Homo sapiens: one gene and its partners. The main gene of each other region encodes a partner of the protein of the gene in region 2 in a complex. Each region holds a gene or a part of one and is shown on either strand. Other genes may lie near its edges.

What was found. Proteins that work in one complex are often made in the same cells at the same time.
Region 1: INTS6 (region 2) and INTS1 share a complex: the UniProt entries of both Homo sapiens proteins name them as parts of the integrator complex.
Region 3: INTS6 (region 2) and INTS12 share a complex: the UniProt entries of both Homo sapiens proteins name them as parts of the integrator complex.

The regions. Positions count from the first base shown.
Region 1 is NC_000007.14:1,500,772-1,510,523, reverse strand, and holds the start of INTS1 (integrator complex subunit 1), read left to right. Parts: upstream 1-6,134; 5' UTR 6,135-6,201; intron 6,202-6,522; 5' UTR 6,523-6,563; coding exon 6,564-6,621; intron 6,622-7,332; coding exon 7,333-7,623; intron 7,624-9,752. UniProt on the Homo sapiens protein: Component of the integrator complex, a multiprotein complex that terminates RNA polymerase II (Pol II) transcription in the promoter-proximal region of genes.
Region 2 is NC_000013.11:51,372,972-51,381,725, reverse strand, and holds part of INTS6 (integrator complex subunit 6), read left to right. Parts: intron 1-2,153; coding exon 2,154-2,264; intron 2,265-3,271; coding exon 3,272-3,487; intron 3,488-5,551; coding exon 5,552-5,678; intron 5,679-6,929; coding exon 6,930-7,072; intron 7,073-7,286; coding exon 7,287-7,518; intron 7,519-8,754. UniProt on the Homo sapiens protein: Component of the integrator complex, a multiprotein complex that terminates RNA polymerase II (Pol II) transcription in the promoter-proximal region of genes.
Region 3 is NC_000004.12:105,681,509-105,685,825, reverse strand, and holds the end of INTS12 (integrator complex subunit 12), read left to right. Parts: intron 1-2,508; coding exon 2,509-3,093; 3' UTR 3,094-3,199; downstream 3,200-4,317. UniProt on the Homo sapiens protein: Component of the integrator complex, a multiprotein complex that terminates RNA polymerase II (Pol II) transcription in the promoter-proximal region of genes.

The sequences.
Region 1 (9,752 bases), on a different chromosome or scaffold from region 2:
GGCTCTCACTGAACATGGCGAGCCACCCTGGACCCAGCAGGGGACTGGGCAGATCAGGCTCTGCTGGTGGCTCTGTCAGGCAGGAAGGCAGGGAAAAGACCAGCCAGGGGTGGGCGTGCACCTGTGGTCCCAGCTACTTGGGAGGCTGAGGCAGGAGGATCGCTTGAGCCCAGGAATTTGAGGCTGCAGTAAACCATGATCACACCACTGCATTCCAGCTGGGTAACAGAGCAAGACCCCGTTTCTAAAACATTTTTTTAAAAGACATGAAGGAAGGGCCAGGCGCGGTGGCTCATGCCTATAATCCCAGCACTTTGGGAGGTCGAGGTGGGTGGATCACCGGAGGTCAAGAGTTCAAGACCAGCCTGGCCAACATGGCAAAACCCCATCTCTACTAAAAATATAAAAATTAGCTGGATGTGGCTGAACGTGGTGGCTCACGCCTGTAATCCCAGCACTTTGGGAGGCCGAGGCAGGCAGATCACCTGAGGTCAGGGGTTTGAGACCAGCCTGGCCAGCATGGTGAAACCCCATGTCTACTAAAAATACAAAAATTAGCTGGGCATGGTGGCAGGCGCCTGCAATCCCAGCTCCTGATGGGGGCTGAGGCAGAATTGCTTGAACCCAGGAGGTGGAGGTTGCAATGGGCAGAGATCACACCACTGCACTCCAGCCTGGGCGACAGAGCAAGACTCTCAGAAAAAAAAAAAAAAAAGCCAGGCGTGGTGGCAGGTGCCTGTAATCCCAGCTACTTGGGAGGCTGAGGCAGGAGAATCGCTTGAACCCCAGAGGCGGAGGTTGCAGTGGTCTGAGATTGAACCACTGCACTCCAGCCTGGGTGGCAGAGTGAGACTCCGTCTCAAAAAAAAAAAAAAAAAAAAAAGACATGAAGGTGACATCCAGGTGCAGGGGACTGGGGCATCAGTGACTGACCAGAGAAGGAGGCCACTTGAGCAAAGACCAGAATGGGGTGGACAGGGAGTCCCAGGACCAGCTGGGGGGTTTCTGGGCACAGGAAACAGCGCATGGAAAGGCAGGCACCTTCCGGAAACAGTGAGAAGGCTGAGGTGCGGGGTGGGGCGGCATCGGGGGAGGTGAGACGGAGATGTAGACCCTGCAGGACCCGGCAGTCCTCGGCGTGGGGCTGGGACGGGGCGAACAGTGGCCCCATAGCCCACGTCCACCGGAGCCACAGGATGGGAGCTTATTTGCAAACAAGGTCTTTGCAGATATAAACTTATTTTTTTATTTTATTTTTTTTGAGATGGAGTCTTGCTCTGTCGCCTAGGCTGGAGTGCAATGGTGCGATCTTGGCTCGCTGCAGCCTCCATCTCTCAGGTTCAAGTGATTCTCGTGCCTCAGCCTCCGGAGTAGCTGGGACTACAGGCACCTGCCACCACGCCCGGCTATTTTTTTGTATTTTTAGTAGAGATGGGGTTTCACTGTGTTATCCAGGATGGTCTCGATCTCCTGACCTCGTGATCCGCCCGCCTCAGCCTCCCAAAGTGCTGGGATTACAGGTGTGAGCCACTGCGCCCGGCCTTGGATAATTTTTTTCTATTTTTAGTAAAGGCAAGGTTTCGCCATGTTGGCCAGGCTGGTCTCGAACTCCTGACCTCAAGCAATCCGCCCGCCTCAACCTCCCCAAGTGCTGGGATGACAGGCGTGAGCCACCGCACAGGCCTAATGAAGGTAAAGATCTTGAGATGAGATCATCCTTGATCTGGGTGGGCCCTAAATCCCTTAACAGATGTCCTCACGAGGCACAGAGACACAGAGAGAAGACGGCCACATGGAGTCAGAGGCAGAGGCTGGAGGGATGTGGCCACGAGCCGAGGACCCCTGGAGTCCCCAGGAGCTGGTCGAGGTAGGCAGCGTCCTCCCCTAGAGCCCTCCGAGGGAGTCAGCCCTGCCCACACTTTGACTTCAGACTTCTGGGCTCCAGAACTGCAAGAGAGGACATTTCTGTGGCTTTAAGCCACCGAGTCTGTGGTGCTTTGTTAAGAGCTGCTGTGGGAAACAACCACAGGTGTTCATTTTACTGTTCGGGTGATAAGCAGAGTCTTTGGAGAATTCTGAGCAGGGGAGGAACATTTGATTATATCTTTTTGTTTTTTTGTTTTTTTTGAGATGGAATCTCGCTCTGTTGGCCAGACTGGAGTGCAGTGGTACGATCTTGGCTCACTGCCACCTCCACCTCCTGGGTTCAAGTGATTCTCCTGCCTCAGCCTCCCAAGTAGCTGGGACTAAAGGCACCCGCCACCACGCCTGGCTAATTTTTGTATTTTTAGTAGACATGGGGTTTACTATGTTGGCCAAGCTGGTCTCAAACTCCTGATCTCAGGTGATCCGCCTGCCTCAGCCTCCCAAAGTGCTGGGATTAAAAGCCACGGCACCCGGCCTAAAAATTAAATTTCTAATAATTTTTTTTTTTTTGAGACAGAGTCTCACTCTTGTCGCCCAGGCTGGAGGGCAATGGCATGATCTTGGTTCACTGCAACCTCCGCCTCCCACGTTCAAGTGATTCTCCTGCCTCAGCCTCCCAAGTAGCTGGATTACAGGTGTCTGCTACCATGCCCGGCTAATTTTTGTATTTTTGTAGAGACCGGGTTCCACCATGTTGGGCAGGCTGGTCTTGAACTCCTGACCTCAGGTGATCCACCCGCCTCGGCTTCCCAAAGTGCTGGGATTACAGGCGTGAGCCATCGCGCCTGGCCATAAAAAATATTTTCAAAAAGTGAGCAAACAATTTGAACAGACACCAATAATGCAGATACACGGATGACAAAAAAAGATGAGAAAACGCTCATCATTACTCATCAGGGAGACGCCGATGAAGAGCACAGGGCAGACCCTGCACACCCCCCCAGGATGACGGAACGCCTGTGGTCCTGCCCGGGCCATCAGTGGAGAAGCCATCCTTGGAATCTGGAATCCATCTGGCGGGTGCTACTCAGCAGCTGACAGAAGCCACCGATGCCTGCAACGCTGGGGTAAGTCTCAGAATAATGATGCCAGGCCGGGCGCGGTGGCTCACGCCTGTAATCCCAGCACTTTGGGAAGCCGAGGCGGGAGGATCACGAGGTCAGGAGATCAAGACCGTTGTGGCTAACACGGTGAAATCCCGCCTCTACTAAAAATACAAAAAAAAAAAAAAATTAGCCGGGCGTGGTGGCCAGCGCCTGTAGTCCCAGCTACTCGGGAGGCTGAGGCAGGAGAATGGCGTGAACCCAGGAGGCAGAGGTTGCAGTGAACGGAGATCGCGCCACTGCACTCCAGCCTGGGTGACAGAACGAGATTCCATCTCAAAAAAAAAAAAAGAATAATGACGCCGAGCAGCTGGCCAGGGAGCGTGCACTGTGTGCTTTCATTCACACAGACTCCAGAAGAGCAAACAGCGCCTCTCCAGGGACAGAAAGTGGCGCCCTGGCGGCCTGGGGACAAGTCAGGGGTGGTTTGGGAATGTTCGTTACAGGGTTGAAAGGGATGGGGGATGGGGCCACAGGTACGTGTGAATGTCAACACGCATCAGTGTGCACCCTTTACACCCTTTACACACCTGCAGTTTATCAGACGTCAATCATAACTCAAAAAAGCTGTTTTCAAAAAGAGGCGGGGAGAGGGAGGAGGAAGGCAAAGAGGTAGAGGAGGGGGAGGAAGAGGAAGAGGGGAAGGAGACGGAGGAGAAAGAGAAGAGGGAGGAGGAGGTGGTCAAGGTTGACTCCTGAGTTTTTAGAGAACGAGGAAGACGAGGAGCAGGAGGAGAGAGAAGGGGGAAGAGGTGGTCAAGGTTGACAGGAGGAGGAGGAGGAGGAGGAGGAGGAGGGGGAGGAGGGGAGGAGGGGGAGGAGGAGAAGAAGGGGAACGAAGGGGAGGGGGGAGGGGGAGGAGGGGGAGGGGAAGGAGGGGAGGGGGAGGGGGAGGAGGAGAGGAGGGGGGAGGGGGAGGAGGGGGAGAAGAAGGAAGGGGAGGAGGGGGAGGAGGAGGGGGAGGGGGAGGGGGAGGGGGAGGAGGAGGTAGTTGTTCTCAAGGTCGACCCTGAGGTTCTGGCCTGGGCCCGGGTGAGGGCATTTGCCGAAGGCACAGGCCCCGCATGCAGGGGCGGTGATGCTGGTCAGAGGATGAGGAGAGGCAGGTGGCGGGGCAGAGGAAGCTCTGTGCAGGGTGCTCCCATTCAGGTGACAGGAGGAGGAAGCATTACCCCATCGGATCTCCCCTCCCCTTAGAGAGTTACCCTGAGGGACAGATTGAGAAACTGTAGAGGGATGAAGCCGCACAGCCCCCGCCTGGCGTCCGGCAGGGATCCGCGCCTGACCGGCCTCTCCTCCCATGGGCACCACGGACGTCTCCTTCCGGACTCGCTGCCCACACAGCGCAGGGTGCAGGGCCCTGGAGCCCTTGGGGTCCTGCGGGGACCCAGCTGGTGCCCACAGGAGTGGAAAGAGACCGTGGCGGGTCACACAGCAGTTCTCAGGCTGCAGCCTGGGGCCATGAGCCTCACTGAGGCCACAGTCAAATGGCCACACCCAACTTCAGGGGCACAGGGAGACCAGCTCTGCCTTGCGGTCCCTGGATGAGGAGATGGGACACACCGGGCAGGCGGTGCTCAGGACTCCCTCGGTGGCGGGGCAGCGTTCGAGTCAGTGCCCTGCTGGGAACAGATCTCCAAGATGTGGTTAAGTGGCAAAAGCCAGGTGCAGAAAAGAGGAGCCGTGCGCTACCTGCAGGGTGACAAGGCAGAGGGAGGCACACGGGTGGCTGCCTGAACGCACACGGAAAAGCCGGGAACACAGGCACAAATCAGAACACAGGCTGACTCCAGGGGAGGGGACCAGCTGCTCAGGGGTCAGGGGAGACCTTCGACCCTTTGACTGGATGATTCCCCCACCTTTTATTTTTATTTTTTTTTAGACAGGGTCTCGCTCTGTCGGCCGGCTGCAGCGTAGTGGCACCATCATAGCTTACTGCAGCCTTGACCTCCCAAGCTGAAGAGATCCTCCTACCTCAGCCTCCTCAGTAGCTGGGACCGTAGGCATGCACCACCATGCCTGGCTAATTTATTCTTGATTTTTGTTTGTAGAGATAGGGTCTCACTATGTTGCCCAGGCTGGTCTCAGACTCCCACTTTGGCCTCCCAAAGGGCTGGGATTAGAGGTTCATGCCACCATGCCCAGCTAATTTTTATTTTTTTGTAGAGATGGGGGTCTTGCTATGTTGCTCAGGCTGGTCTCGAACTCAACCGATCCTCCTGCCTTGGTCTCCCAAAGTGCTGAGATTACAGGCATGAGCATCACACCTGGCAACTGTATGATCTTTTGTGTCTTTTGAGTTTTGTTCCCATCAGTGTTTCCATTAAAAAAAAAAAAAAAAAGGCGTGGGGGCGGGGCGGGCGCAGTAATTCCAGCACTTTGGGAGGCCAAGGCGGGCGGACCACCTGAGGTCAGGAGTTCGAGACCAGCCTGGCCAACATGGTGAAACCCCGTCTCTACTAAAAACACAAAAAAATTAGCCAGACATGGTGGCGGGCGCCTGTAATCCCAGCTACTCGGGAGACTGAGGCAGGAGAATCGCTTGAACCTGGGAGGTGGAGGTTGCAATAAGCCGAGGTCGCGCCACTGCATTCCAGCCTGGGCGACAGAGCGAGACTCCGTGCCAAAAAAAAAAAGAAAAAAGAAAAGGGTGAACTTTGTGGAACACGAGTTCTATCTCAATAAAGCTATTATTATTATTATTATTATTATTTGAGACAGGGTCTCTCCCCGGGAGCCCCCCGGGCTGCGCCCCCTCGCCAGTGCCTGCGCCCCGGCCGCCCCCGCTCTCCGGGACGTGCAGAACCTGCCACTTGACTCATCCGCGGATCCCTGACGCCACTCCTCCCCGCCGTGCGTCCTGGAGTGCGTCCCTTCGCAACGCCAGCACCACCTGTGAATGGAGAGGCCAGCGCCTGCCCCGCGCCGCCGACCCACCTGGACCGGACCACATGCGCGCGGCGCCGGCCAGCCCGCCTCCCGCCGCCATGGGGCGCTGCAGGCATCAGGCCGGCGCCGCGGGCCTCTCGCGCCTCCTTCTGGGCCCGCTTCCCGCCGCACTGTTTTCCTTCCGGTTGTTCCGGAAGTCGGGTCCTCGAGGGCGGTGAGATCGGTTTCCGATTCCGGGGTGGCCGGGTGGCGGCGGCGGCGCTCCGGTCGCGATGGGCCAGAGGTAAGTGAGCCGCGGCCTGGGCGCTTCCTCATTGCCGGGCGAGCGCCTGGTTCTCCCGGCTACCGCTCCCGGCCTCTGGGCCGTCCCTTCTGGTTCTGCCGCCTCCAGCCCGGCGTCCGCGTCGCCTGCTGCCGCCCGACTGAGCCGCTCCCGGGCGGCTGGGAGGCGGGGTCCCTGCAGCTCCTGCAGCATCGCCCCGCCGGGCGGGCGCGGGACCACTGTCCCCGGGTCCCAGGCCCAAGCCCCGTGCGGCAAGGGAGCGAATGAGCGAGCGAACGAGCGAATGAGTGAAGGAATGACCGCACGCTGGCTCCTCCGCAGGTGACGCCGCAGCCGCCGGGAGCCGCGAGGGACGGGGCAGGATGAACCGGGCCAAGCCCACCACGGTGCGCCGGCCCAGCGCCGCGGCCAAACCCTCAGGTGCGTCTCCCTCCTCGCTCTGCAGCCCGGGGGTCTTTGGGGGTCTTTGGGGGTCTTTGGGGATCTCAGCTGCCGCGGATCCTGCGTTGGGCTTGGTTGTTCCGCAGCCGCGGCTGTTTCCAGGAATTCGGTCTGGAAACACTGCTCTCGGTCCTCAGCGGCTCTGAGAGTCCCTGGGAGGCTTGGGACAGTGGCGACTTCCTTCGGGACCCCGGTGATCTCGTTTCAGGCTGAGCTGCAAGGCGGCCGACAGTAGCGGAAGGTCTCCCCAGCCAGGAGGCGGGAGGCAGCACAGTGTAGCGTAGCACGGGGTCTGCGGCTGAACTGTCGGCTCAGATCCTCCGGACTTTGCCACTCGCCTGCTGTGTGACGCTGGGCACGTCGCTTAACCTCTCTGTGTCCCTTTCTCTCTTGTAAAGTTAGAGTAATAGCACCTATTGCGGAAACTCGGGGCGGGGGTTACTAAGCACACTAATTTGGATAGACCAGAGATGGCCTGGTTTGTGGTTAGCGCTACGTGACTGTCCACCATCACCTGTGCGTATCCTGCTGGTCCCAGCTCTGCTGTAGGCTGCTGAGTGAGCTCTGGCTTCTTCCTTGCCTCCTCTGACCCTTGTTTAATCCCCTCTGACATAACAGGAGGTTAGAGTCAGTCTTTTTCCATCTTGGGTGTTGCAAATGTGCCCGGTTTTCTCTCTCCTTTCTCTGCAGGGCACCCTCCCCCAGGAGACTTCATTGCTCTGGGCTCAAAGGGTCAGGCCAATGAATCGAAAACGGCGTCCACCCTGCTGAAGCCAGCCCCTTCCGGCCTGCCTTCTGAGCGCAAGCGGGATGCGGCGGCCGCGTTGTCCAGTGCCTCGGCCCTCACCGGTCTCACCAAACGCCCCAAACTCTCCTCCACACCCCCTCTGAGTGCCCTGGGGCGCCTGGCTGAGGCTGCAGTGGCAGAAAAACGAGCCATTTCTCCGTCGATTAAAGAGCCATCTGTGGTGCCAATTGAAGGTAATGAGTCTGTGGACATCCCCCGAGAACACCCCTCAGCTCATGCCGTCCATCAGGTGTTCAGGGAAGGCCCCCTCCAGGCCTAGTGCTGCCCGTATGGCCGAGGTCCTTTGGGAGAGCGGATGTTTGTGGCTTGTTCTTGGAAGTGCTTCTCACGTAGATGCCCTTATCCCGTGTGTGCATCTGCGTCCTGCACTGCCAGTGGCTGCCCTTTGAGAACCGGGTCACTCCCTTATTGAGTTGTTTGTCTCATGTGTCTGTTGGACGCCCCCTTTGTGACGGGCACTGTCTGAGCCCTGGGGGTAAACCGGGCGTGACGACACCCCAGGTGTCTGTTCTCAAGGTTGCCCATCCTGGTGCGTTCCTCTCTCAACCTGAGCGGAGGCGATGTGTACTTGGTTCCTCCTTCCCTCCTGGTTACCAACAGAGAAGAGTTGATCCCCTCCCTGTTTTCAGTTGAAAAGCAGCAGAACAGTAAGGACATCAACGGGGGAATGTAAGCTTCACCACTGTCCCGTTCTCGCAGAAATGCCTTTAACTGTGTGCCTAGAATCGCCCCTGCCCCTCTGCGCCATTTTCCCAACGACCATTTCTCAAGGCTCCGTGACTCCCTGGGAGTCGCTCTGGCAGCTATCGCACCAGCCCCAGCAAGCCTCATGGTCTGCAGTGTTTTGTTTCTGTGGGAGCATCTCTTTTGGGTAATTTCTTTGTAGGAGTCAAAAAGAACAAGTGTCCTGATGACTTTGGTAGTGAGGTGTCTGTTCAAGCCGCGCCACCTCTGGTTACTGAGTTTTGTGCCAGACAGGACCCAGGGGACTTGTGGGCTGTGGCCTTGCCCTCAGGGAGGGACCAGGCTGCTGCAGTGCAAGCCTGTGAGTGAGTCCCCGACGGCCCTGGAAGGGAGGAGGCCTGGCAGGGAGTTGCAGTATGGGCTTGGGCCTGGAAGCACAGGCGATGAAACCGGGGCAGGCAGGAAAGGGAGATGCCAAGCAGAGAATGGACTGTGCCCAGGGAATGGAGGCCTGGCCTGGCCTGGGCAGCACACGCTCATGAGAGCTGAGGCTGGGCGCTGTGGGCAGTGTTTGTGCTGGACTCAGTTGGCATCAGGGAGCCCTGGGGGCAAACGGCCCAGGATGGCACAGCTGGGGGACTGCTTTAGGAGGTCGAGCCTCAGACCTCCCATGAGGCGTGTCCCTGGGCAGCTGGTGCCGGTGGGGATTGAAGACAGAGACCACAGGCCTCATCCTGGCCCGGGCTCTCGGCCGCCGGCGGCTCGGTGCTTTATTTATCTTTAGCACTACCTCCTGTAGAAAGGAGGTTTTGAAGATGAGAGGAGACGTGGTTATGAAAAGCGTATTCTGAGTGGTAGATCACTTTATAGTATTATTCTCAGCAAAACAGAGAGATGGCTGCATCCAGCCATTTGTGGTAAATGTCCCAGGCTGTCCCTCCATGCTGGCAGCCCACTTGTCCCCCAGCTTGTCTCGGCATCAGGAAATTTATTCCAAGTCTCTGTCCCGGGCGCAGTTAAGGTAGATCACAATGCCTCTGTCCACATGTGTGTGGATATGTATTTACTTATTATTTATTATTTATTTATTTATTTATTTTTTTTTGAGACAGAGTCTCGCTGTGTTCCCCAGGCTGGAATGCAGTGGCACGATCTCGGCTCACTTCAGCCTCCGCCTCCCGGGTTCACATGATTCTCCTGCCTTAGCCTCCCAAGCAGCTGGGATTACAGGCATGCACCACCACGCCTGGCTAATTTGTGTATTTCTAGTAGAGACAGGGTTTCACTGTATTGGCCAGGCTGGTCTCGATTTCCTGACCTCAGGTGATCCACCTGCCTCAGCCTCCCAAAGTGGTGGGATTACAGGTGCTAGCCACTGCACCTGGCCGTTTGTGGATATTTAAAAACACAGTCCTAAAAAACTGTTGGGACAGAGAAGAATCAGAATGAAAATGAGAAAACCTCCGATCCAACAGTGGCAAACACGACGATAGGAAAGGTGTGTGCTGGCCCTGGTGCTCCTCAGAGGATGTGGGAGGGTCAGGCACTCGTCTGGAGGAAGGTTGTGAGCCGAGCACCCATGGAAAGAGGGAGGAAAAGTGGGAAGAAGGGCATGCTG
Region 2 (8,754 bases):
ACACCGTCTCCAAAAAAAAAAAAACAAAAAACTTGTTAATTATATTATGCTTATGGTTTATTGTGGGTATTATAAACTTTTATTTATTGCTTTTATAGATTAAATGACATGAAAATTGAGCATACAGATGACCACTATAGGTATAAAGGTAAAGAGAGGTTTCAGTGATTTGCAGAGTAGTGATGATGATCATGATCATGAGAACATTTATGTACTGCTTACGTAGGCCAGGTACTGTCCTAAGCAACATCATTAATTTATACAGTTACCCTATGAGGTAGAAATGATTATTGGTTCTGTTACATAGATGAGGAAACTAAGGCATTAAAAATTAAATAATTTGCACAAGGCTACATAGCTAATATGTGAGGGGATGAGGAGCCTGAAATTCAGTCTGGCTTAGATTTAGGCTTTTAACCTCGAGTGTTGTACTACCTTTTAAAATTACAGTTTTATGATTATAGTTGTCTCTCAGTATCTGTGAGGGATTGGCTCCAGGCTCACCTGTGGACACCAAAAGTCACAGATGCTCAAGTCCCTCATATAAAATGGCATAGTATTTGCATATAACCTACACACATTCTCTTGTATACTTTAAACCATTTCTAGGTTACTTAATATGTATATACTTTTATACTGTATTGTTTAAGGAATAATGTCAAGGAAAAAAGAGTCTGTATATATGTTCAGTACAGATGCAACGATCCATTTTTTTTTCCTAACGTTTTCAGTCTGTGGTTGATTGAATTCACAGAATACGGAATCCATAGATATGTAGGGCCGACTATATTTATTTTTAAGGGTGCACAATAGTTTTTGTTGTATTATTTCCCAAATCTCTAGAAACACTTTGTAAGGTGGATAAGTGTATATTCTTATAGAACCATATGCTTTAGAGGACTTGATTACTTCAAAATAGTGTATCATAGTAGGTAAAACCAATAATGTGCATTTTATTAAATACATGATTTAGTTTGTGAAAGATAACTTTTTAACAAAAGTACTTAAAATCACTTATGTATTCTGTTTTGATGCAGGAATATTATAGCATTTGGCTATAAATAATCTTTCTAAATCATCCCTAATATAATTAGGAGATTAATTTCTTGAGCTTTAAAAATCATGACATTTTATAGTTCTAACAGATAAGTTGTGTTGAATGTCTAGCACACAGTGCCTGGCAAGTAGAAGGACAAAAAAGAACAAACACTTCGAACAGGAACTGTTACATATGTTGACTCATTTACGTTTCATAGCAACCCTGAAGATTTAGCCAAGCCAGATAGGTGTTAAATATCAGGGCTGGGATTTGATTTCAGTTTGACACCAGTGCTTATACACTTTCTAATATGTCAATGATTATCATCCTTTTTCTGGCTCTATCCGATTCACAAATGCTAGACACTCTTGCTAGTGATATTTTTCATCGTATAAAGTACTTCTCAGTCTCTCCTTACAATTGAAAGTTTTTTTTAACTTTCAACTACCACATCCATAATAAATATTAGATTGTTTTTTCCTCCTGCTTATGTTTCCTTCAGAGCTTTTTTTCAGCTCAGCATATGATAATAATAGTAATGATTAATAATTTGTACCCAATGGTTTTATAAAGTGCTTTATGTGTATTAACTCATTTAATCCCATGACAACCCTGTAAGAGTAGGTATTGTTATTATCCCCATTTTACAAATGAGAAACTAAGCCACAGAGAGCCAGAGAGCTTATTTATAATCTGATCTAGAATCATATAACTAGTGAGTGGTTGAGCAGCTAATTACTCAAAAGTAGAAATCTTGCATTTTCCTTGAGTGTTTTTCACTTACTACCCATGTTTTATCAGAGCTACCTCTAGAATGTGTCTTCTGTCCATTTATTCCAAACCTAGTTTCTCCCAGTGGTACCAAGGAAGACCAGTATCTTATCCTTCTTGTCTTGGGGAGTTATTATGGCCTCTAATCCTTTTTAACTACTTCAAACGGCCTTTCATCCCACTGACAAACATTTTACTGAAACATAAATACGATTGTGTTACTTCCTTATTGAGGAAAAGAAGGGGAAATAATTTTTTGGAGAAAATTTTAAGACAGACTATACATGGAACCATAAGTTTTTAATAAGCTTAATATTGAATGATGTTTTCTTTTTTCCTATAGCCCTTGAAGAAAGCTGTTAGGATGATGGGAGCACCTAACCTAATAGCAGACAGTATGGAATATGGACTTAGTTACAGTGTCATTTCATACCTCAAAAAACTGAGTCAACAGGTAATATCAAGAAATAGAGTGAGCCATTAAGTATTTTGAATGGTTTTGGCTAGGATGGTTAAACAGGTTAAAAGCTAGTTCTTGATGGTTCTAATGGAATTCCATTATATTAATATATTACATTTTAGAGCCATATATTACATAATTCTGTCTCACATCCATGGTGTGCTATGTTTTGAAACATTAATTTGAAAATTATATAATAATTCCTAATTTATGAAAATGGCTTCATGAGTGTGGTCCTAGACTTGCTATATGTGAACATTATTTATCTTTTGAGAAATTTAGATTAGAAAGTCATTTTTCCTTAAAAAAGAAAAAAAAAACTCTTTATGTTTTGAAACCTGCAGATTTTTCTTTCAGAATGGGAGTTTCTTTGAAATGTTTGTAGAAAACACTGAATTTTGTCATTCTGGCCATAAGTCACATTAATAAATACTATAGTAGTCAAGCAGTATATAGTTTAACTGACTGTGAAATTATTAATGTCCTATGAAATACATTATTTCTCCAGTACTTCTGACATTGCTACCTTAACTACAAATCAAAAGGCAGTTTGGGAGGAGTCAAAACATTGCTTCTTGCTTTCCAGGGAAGAACTGCATAATTATTTGCCATATTGATGTGCTAGTAAAAATGTCTTACATAATGATGATTTTAAAAAAATAATTTACCGTCACCCCTGAATTGGGAATACACATTTTTGTTTAGTGTGCATTTATATTTCATGGTTTAGGTATAGTGGGTATTAATAAATAAAATAATAAATTGAAATTGTGTTTGTCCTGCTCCAAAAGTTTAGAGTTGTAATGATTTAAAATCATAAGACATTGTTGTTTAAACTATGTTTAATTTACCCAATACTTGACATAAACTATGCTACTTGAGTTTTTAACTTCTTATATACTTAAAAAATATATATTTAATTTATAGAAGATCATAACCATTAGTATCTGATTTATTAATTTAGATTTTATCAAGATAATTCTGACTTATTTTTACTTTAGGCCAAAATAGAATCTGATCGAGTCATTGGATCTGTAGGCAAAAAAGTAGTACAGGAGACTGGAATAAAAGTCCGGAGCCGATCACATGGTTTATCAATGGCATATAGGAAAGATTTTCAACAACTCCTCCAGGGAATTTCAGAGGATGTCCCTCACAGACTGCTAGACCTTAATATGAAGGAATACACTGGGTTCCAAGTTGCTTTGCTGAATAAGGTAATAATCATGAATTTAGTGCTACTCTAGTTATGTTCTGTTATGTTACTGGATAAATCACATTTTCTGTTAACTCTGACATTCAGTTTATCCAGACTTTAAAGAGTACTTCTGTACTCTTGTAGACTAATGATCATTATACTGTCACTGCTAGAATTAAAACAGTGTACATGGTGTGTGAATGAATGGATAGATTGATGAAGAGTAAACTAACTTGTTTATTTTATAGATGAGAAAACAGAGGTTTAGAAATTGCTTTAAGTTGCAGTAGTGGATGGTAGAATTCACTATAGTTTTGTACTTAAACTGATGACCCTATTAGACCCACAGCATGATCCAAAAATGCTTTGTGAGTACTCATGGTTACAGATATCTTTATCCCAGCAGCCTTTTTGTAGAAATAGGCAAGCTGATTCTAAAATTTATATGGAAATGTAAAGGTCCTGGAATAGCCAAAACAATTTTAGAAGAATAAAGTTGGAAGACTTATATCATCTGATTTTAAAACTTATTGTAAAACTTACTACAGTGATCCATGCAGTGTGGTGCCATCATAAGGATAAACATAGGAGATTAGTGGAACAGAATTGAGTCTAGATGTAGGCCCTCACACACACAGTCAATTCTTAACAAAGATATTAAAATAAGGTAGTGGATAAGAAGACAGTCTTTTAAACAAATGGAACAATTGGATATCCATATGCAAAATAATGAATTTGACCATTACCTCATATTATTTGAAGTGGTCGTGATCTTAAATGTAAGAACAAAAACTATAAACTTCTAGAAGAAAACATAGGAAAAAATCTTTGTGATGTTGAGTTAGCAAAGATTTCTAAAAGCACATAGCAAAAATGTTGATAAATTGAATTTCATTAAAATAAAAAATAAACTTTGCTCTTTAAAAGAAACATTAAAAATGAAGAGGGAAGCTACAGCTTGGGAGAAAAGCACATATCAAATAAAGGACTTGTATCAAAATATATAAAGAATTCATATAACTCAATAATAAAAGGACAAACATGGGCAAAATATTTGAACAGACATTTCACCAAAGAAAATATGCAAATACAAATAAGAACATGAAGTAACACTCAGCCTTATCAGCCATTAGGGAAATGCAAATTAAAACCATAACGAGATACTACTTCATAACTGCTAGAATGAATAAAATTTAAAAGACAAAAAATACAGGGATTGATGAGAATGTGGAGCAACCCTCCTAACATTACTGATAGAAAATAGTTGATATTTTCTTAAGAAGTGTAAACATAAATTTGCTGTACAATCAGTCATTCTACTTGTAGGCTTAGCATGCCAACATGGCAGCATTTTTCATAATAGCCAAAAACTTGTAACAGTCCAAGTGCCCATCAGCTGGTGAATAGATAAAGAAGATGTGGTGTGTCCATATAATAGACTACTACTCTGGAATAAAAAGGAACAAACTACTGATACATGAATAATGTCAATGAATCTCAAAAACATCATGCTAATTGAAAGAAGCCAAGTACAAAAGATTAGACGTTGCAAAATTCCATTTATAAAATGGAGCATAGAAAGAAAGCAAGTCACGTGGTTGCCTGGGGATAGGAATAGTGATTGACTGCAAGTGGGTACAACAAACTTGGGGATGGTGGAAATGGATTATGATGATGGTTTCACAACTATAAATTTACTAACATTCATCAAACTATATACTTAAAATAGGTGATTTTATGGTATATAAATTACACATCAAAGCTGTTTTTTAAAAAACTTCAGTTTTTAAAATTTGGAGATTGATTTTTACTTAAATGAGTTTACTTCTTTTATCCAGAATATATAATAAAATCTTTAGAGTTAGATGGTGAATTGAGATTGTTTGGTTGAGCTCACTACCAAATTTTCATCTTTTGGCCCTGAACCGGTACATTAAGATTATATCATATGTCTTTATTTTATTTTTTTTAAGCTAACCAGTTTATATATCTTATTTCCAAACCTATGCTGCAGGCTAGAGATTTTAGTCTCTTGTAATTCTATGTTTGACAATAAATTTTGTCCTCGAATGTTGTTTAATAGGATTTGAAGCCACAGACATTTAGAAATGCTTATGACATACCAAGACGAAATCTTTTGGATCACTTAACAAGAATGAGATCTAATCTTTTGAAGAGCACTCGCAGATTTCTGAAAGGACAGGACGAAGGTTAGAACATAGTTTCAATACTGGTATTTTTAATTTTTTTTCTTTATAGTCTGAAAAAGCATAGCATGGTGATGTAAATTTCAAAGAATTATTACAGTACTATAACATTCTTATTGTAAGTTCAAACAAATGAAGTAAAAGGTGAATCATCCCTGATTCTGTACCTTTCTTCCTACCATCACTGTTGCCCCAAATTCTCTTCCCTAGAGGTAACAACCTTTCTTAACAGTTTAGTTTCCTTTTATAGCTTTTCTCATGCATTCATGCGCGCACGCGCGCGCACACACACACACACACACACACACACACACACCCACTTATCAAACTGTATACTTAAAATAAGTGATTTTTCTTATCTCAATCATTTTCTTGAGATAATACCAGTATCTGATGGTTTAACTCTGGATGGCCAGTTTCATGACATTTTCTGATAATTCCTTCTTCACCTTTATCCATGGCACCTACTATAAATCAAGTCAGATGAGACTTTAAACGTTTGCCACCTCTGATTTAAGAGTTCTAACAATAATTTTATATAAAAGAGTTAGCTATGCGACTTTTTTTTTTTTTTACCATACTGTACTTCCATTTTCTACAAATTCTACTATAATTAAATTCTGTTTATTTGGAATAGCGCAGAAGAGAAGAGATACATCTTTCACGGTAAGATCACACATACTTTTTTTTTTTTTTTTTGAGTCAGAGCCTTGCTCTGTCGCCCAGGCTGGAGTGCAGTGGTGTGATCTCGGCTCACTGCAACCTCCGCATCCTGGGTTCAAGCGATTCTCCTCCTTAGCCTCCCTAGTAGCTGGGATTACAGGCACGTGCCACCATGCCCTGCTAATTTTTGTATTTTTAATAGAGATGGGATTTTGCCATGTTGGCCAGGCTGGTCTCATTCCTTACCTCAAGTGATCCGGATGTCTGCCTCAGCCTCCCGAAGTGCTGGGATTACAGGCATGAGCCACTGCGCCTGGCCACACATACTTTCTGTATGTGTGGAATTAATGGCAATGTATGTATGTGTGAAATTAATGGCAATTTTTGTTTTGTTTAGATGATGAGATCAGTATTTTAAATTTTATTTTAAAATATTTTGTCGCAGTGGTTATAATTGCACCAAACAAATTTAGAATATGTTGGTAAAGAAGACTGTCTAGAATAACACTAGGTAGCATTCATATATAAGGAAACATTATTTGAGAACTAATTGGAGGTTAACTTTTTTTGCTGTTGTATTCTTTTTGAAAGATCAAGTGCACAGTGTTCCTATAGCACAAATGGGGAACTACCAGGAATACCTCAAGCAAGTACCTTCTCCACTAAGAGAACTTGATCCTGATCAGCCACGAAGGTTGCATACATTTGGCAACCCCTTTAAGCTGGATAAGAAGGTAATTTTGAAATGTTCTATTATGTAATTTGTTTATGGTAGGCACTGTCAGTTTTATAGTTCTTAATTTAACTGAAGTAAGCTGAAGCTATTTTCCTGGTAGAGTATCTAATAAATATGAACAGAATATAGTTACCTTCATTGGAATTGACACTGGTTGTGCCATTTAAACATTGTTTGTAAATTCAAGAAAGTTGTATTCTTTTTTGCTAAAGGGTATGATGATAGATGAAGCAGATGAATTTGTGGCTGGACCTCAAAATAAACATAAACGACCCGGAGAACCAAATATGCAAGGGATCCCTAAAAGACGTCGGTGTATGTCTCCACTACTAAGAGGCAGACAGCAGAATCCTGTTGTAAACAATCATATTGGGGGAAAAGGACCACCTGCACCTACAACTCAAGCACAGCCAGATCTTATTAAACCTCTTCCTCTTCATAAAAGTAAGAATTGTTTTTTTCTTAAACATTATTTGCTGCCTTTTGGTTCCTTTTCAAGGAAGATATTTTTGTTATAGATTATAGAAGGAAATTGATTAGTAGTACAATGAGTGAATGAATGTATAGAAAATTTGTTTAAATGAGCATGTAATCATTTTTGTATGTCTTTTTAATGAACATTTGAACATTTCTTATTTATGATGCTTTATTAGCTATTATGTTCTAACATACATTTGCAAATCTTTCAAAATAATACTTTCGAAAGGAGCATTATCACTATCCACAGAAAGATGGTTTTCAATTTCAGTTGAAGTCAACTAATTATTAAATATGTATGCTATTTTGGATAATGCTGTGCTTTGAGGTATACCACTGAAGACAGGAGTGATCTCTGCCCTCATTTATAATCAGCAAGGAAGGTCAGTCATTGAACAGATATTGGAAGTATGTTGAATGTTACGAAAAAGATGTCAAGTATATTCTGGAAGCATTTGGCAAGAGGATTTAAGTCAATGAAGTCAAGGCACTTAACTGAAGAAGTTAATGCTTAAGCCAAAAGCTGTGCCGTTTGCTTATGCTGGAGCAATAGTATGTGCAGAGGCATAAAGAGAAAGACATTAAGGGAATTTAAAAAATTCCAGTATAGCAAGGGTGTTGGGAATGAGGTAAGGTGAGAACTGAAAGATAGAAGCCAGATTATGGAAGGTCTTGGAAGCTATTTTCAACTTTATTCTAAGGACAGTGAGAATCCACTGAAAGGCTTAAAATGATGGTGACCTAATCTGATTAGCATTTTATGAAGACCAGGTTGACTGTAATGTGTGTGGACTATTATCAGAGAGGAGCAAGAATGAATGTAGGGAAACCCTAATGAATTAATGGACTTATCAATTATATATAGTGGTCATACTTACAGCATGTTAACTGAAGGGAAACAAAATATTATATGACTCCTGATGGAAGTATCCAATACTGCCTTTGAAGTTGTCTTACCCAAAAAAAAAAAAACCAAACACCAAAATTGAACATCAATGTAATCAAACCAATTTATAGGAAATACAGGGGACAGAGAAACATGTGGGATACCGTTAGTAAAATCCAGATTGTAGAAAACTCTACAGGACAAAGAATCTGTTGGGTTTTTTTCCTGGAAAAAAAATATTTTTTCCAGAAAAATAAAAGGGGTACGGAAGGATTTTACAGATTCAAATGTAGTTTAAGAGATATATAAGCCAGTTG
Region 3 (4,317 bases), on a different chromosome or scaffold from region 2:
CTTGAAATCATACTACATTATTTCTTAATATCTTGGCCTTTTTATATCATGGAAAAAAATAATTTTCTAATCTAATTTCATAACAAAAAGAATACTTTTACTGAGGTACACATTCCAATATTAAGCATAGCACTAAATATGGAAGAAAAAATATTAAAAAAAAAATAGCCTCAAATTCTCAAAGATTGACCTGAGAAAACTCTAAAGTTATTGCCTTATCTAAGTGACTGTAAGTAGTAAGCTTCATACCCTTGATGTGATGAAAAAGAATATGAATACGAAATACTTTTAAAAACTTATTGATAATTATATTTGGAGATTATTTTTCATTTTAATTTGCCAGGGAAGATTTGCTATCCAAGGCATATCCATTATTGATTTGTCATATAGGAACTTGGTGAATTGGAATAGAAGTAAGAATAACCAGTTTATTGAAAGTAATTAGAGTTGCTATATTCTGCATATAATCACTTTTTAGTAGATTTTTAGATTAATCTGTTACTACTAAAGTTTATTTTTAGAAAATTCAACATGAAATCATTTTATGGCAAACAAATTAAAGACTGCTGTCATATTTGTTTTGATTAAGAGGTTTTGTGTTTCTTTAATAAAAAATTCACTTTTTATAAAAGTGAATAAATTTATACTATAAAAAAATTGTTCCCATTCACATATAAAAAGCAAATGTCTTTTCTAACTTGCCCATCTAGCAAATAGGCAAGAAAATATTTATAGTTAAAAACTTGAGAAATTTGTTTTCTACACTGAAATAGTAAGAAATCACTTGGTCTCCATTGTTTGTGTTATATTACTTCTATGTGTCCTGATAGTATTATAAACCATCTGTCATCCTGTTGAAAAGCAATACTAAGCAACAGCAAGCCATTAAAATGAAATGCCAGACACATAGAACATGCTTTCTTGCTTGTACTTCCTAAGTGTTGGTCTTTTAATTACTAAAGGTGGGTTTTCTTTTGTGAAGTTTTTTGAAAGATCATTTAACCATATGGCAGACAGTTTTATGTTTAATAGCAAGAAAAGGAAAAAAAATTAGGTCTTTCATAACTGAAAATTAAAGGTTTACTTCTTGACTAACTTTTTCTCTCATTGCTGGTATATATTCCTCTAGGAATAAATGGTTTATGTAGTTTTTCTTCTCTGGATAACTTCATAAGATAGTTAATATGTTACTGTAAGAAAACTTCCTATCAATTTTCAGAGTATGTGGACAAATATCTGGATTCCTTCTCTTATAAATCGAATATCTCAGAACTCTATTTTTGTTACTTTTCACATTGATTAAAAATGTATGCATGCAGACAATATTGAAGGCTACCTTGATTTCAAGAGCTAAAAATGTTTTATCAACTATTTCAGAGTAAAGTTCTAAATTATAACTGGATATATTTTAGGTATAATAACTACCATTTTTTAAGTAGGATGTTATTTTGTAAAATTTTATCTTTTACCTATATGTGAATGTAATGCTTTTGTGAATCTTCTTAAGAGTATAAAGGTAGAAAAGGTGTCAATAAGAAGTTCAATTCAAAATTAATTTGAATACGTACATTTGTGCCTAATATGAAAGTGAAAAAATATATTCTTGTGTGAACAAGAGCAATATGTATTTATATAGTGGCATTGGTACCATTGTGAGCTTCTGATTAGCCAGGAAAGTTAATCAGAGAAGTTGAAGTGTTATACCCTTATGAAATATATCAGAGAATGAGATCAGTCCTACCCAAAATGTCACTGTGCAGCCTAATGAGGCAATTGATAAAATCCTTATTAAAGGAGCAGGAGACTCTTACATGATAGTTTAACCGGAATCATGGGCAAATTGTGAAACTAAAATCATGAGAACTTTTTAACACATCATAAAAATTGTACACTTCCAAGTAATTAACTTTGCATATATTTTGTACTCCTGTAACTGTTGCTCAAAATTTAGGAGGACATTTTTTTTTAATGGGTTTAGAATCTATACAGCTGTCTTCTTTCTCTCACACAGTCACTCAGTAAATAAATATTGACTGAATCTCTTCATCTTGGATATGTTCTCCTGAATATTCTGGGTATGGGCATTTTTGCTATTAAGAGTGAATTAAATTTTTGAAATGATCCCTAGTTATTTGGAGAAAAGTCTAAAAGAATTAGATGTTTAACTAAGGTCGATAATACTTTGTTGGGTAAAAACTATGTTAAAGCACTAAATCTGGTTTTCAGATATAGCTTAGAATTGAATCTAAAAGCAATTCCCAAAAAGGAATTTCATATATTTTCTTTTGGAATCATTAGAACAAGAATATGGTATCAAAAATTTTCTGCTTTGCAAATGATAATACCCACTAGATACAGATAAGTTTTGTTCTGTGTGGTTTTTCAGATCAGCTTCATAAGAACCTAATTTGGTGGTGTGATTTAAATTTCCCAATTCATAACTTGGGATGTTTATACAGGTACTGATTAAACTTGGCTCTAATGTAATTATTTACTTTATTTTTTTAGACATCCACAGTTATTTCAGGAAATTCTTCTAGTGCCAGCGTTTCCTCGTCAGTAACTAGTGGCTTAACTGGATGGGCAGCTTTTGCAGCCAAAACTTCCTCTGCTGGTCCTTCAACAGCAAAATTGAGTTCAACAACACAAAACAATACTGGGAAACCTGCTACTTCGTCAGCTAACCAGAAACCTGTGGGTTTGACTGGTCTGGCAACATCATCCAAAGGTGGAATAGGTTCCAAAATAGGTTCCAATAACAGCACTACGCCCACTGTACCTTTAAAACCACCTCCACCTCTAACCTTGGGTAAAACTGGCCTTAGTCGCTCAGTTAGTTGTGACAATGTCAGCAAAGTAGGTCTTCCTAGTCCAAGTAGTTTAGTTCCAGGAAGCAGCAGCCAACTAAGTGGGAATGGAAATAGTGGAACATCAGGACCTAGTGGAAGTACTACCAGCAAAACTACTTCAGAATCCAGCAGCTCTCCCTCAGCATCCCTTAAAGGCCCAACTTCACAAGAATCACAGCTCAATGCTATGAAGCGATTACAGATGGTCAAGAAGAAAGCTGCCCAAAAGAAACTCAAGAAGTAATGTGGCCAAGTAGGTTTTTGTATCATATTAGCCTAAAGATGAAAGGCTTATTATTATGATATAATCTGTAATACACTGTAATTTAATAAAAGTCTTCATAATCAAATTTCTATTGTTTCTTACCTTAAAATGCTAAATATTATATAACAAAACTTGGAAACTTTCATTTTAAATCAATCTTCAACATTTTTATTCTAATGATTTCCATAGTGTGTGAAAACAATGATTAGAATGACTGGTTCTCAATGAGATCTTCAGAAGATTGAAAGCATCTGTGAATTTAAGGAAAAAGAAATAGTTCATCTTCTAGCAAAGCCCCAAGAGTTGATCCTGATGAATGAGGTGCCTTATGTGGCGGCAGGGACGACCCAACATAGTTTTCTATTTTCCTCCCCGTATTCTGGGTGTTCATTTTCTGTGCTAGCCCCATTTCAACTGACTCTCCCTCTCCCTCCCAATTATTTCATCTTTTTCAAAATTATTTTTTCATTATTGATTTCTCATATCAATGGATTTTCCTAATTGATTTATCATACTTCATATTATATCTTTACCTTTTTTATCACCTCATTTCAATTATTTAAGGGTATATCTTTTTCCAATAAATTGTGAACTCTCCTGGTGCTTAATACAATATTTTTTCTCACATTGCTCACTTTTCCTACATTGCCAATGTAATACATGCACATAGTACGTAATAAATGTTGAATTTTGATTCATCTTGGTTATGCACATTCCTGATAAGTTTTGAAGAAAAATACCATTTCACAAAGGTCTTTGCAGATGGAAATATATGACTTGTTCACACACTGATGGCTTCTTCCTATACCATGAAAGAAAAGGCTATCTTACTTAGTGCTCAAAATGTTATAGCACTTTACCTAATTTTAGCTAACTTTGTATACAATAAGCTCCTATATAATGATTAATTCTTGAGATTGTTTTGTACATTGTTAACCCATTTATGCCAGAGGTTGCAAATTTTTTTGGTGAAAAATCAGACCTGATGATGACCTTGAACAGTAGGATATAAATAACTCTATAAGCCGAGCATTGCAATAATGGAACACTAGGCATAAGTGGGTTAAGTCAGAAAATGTGGAAGGTCTGCGTTGTTGTCTTACTTGCAAGCTAACAAATTAACCAGCAATTGTTGTACATGTATATTCTGAGAGAAGATAGGAAGCCCTCTGCATCAGAGAAACAGTTTATTATTCACAGCAA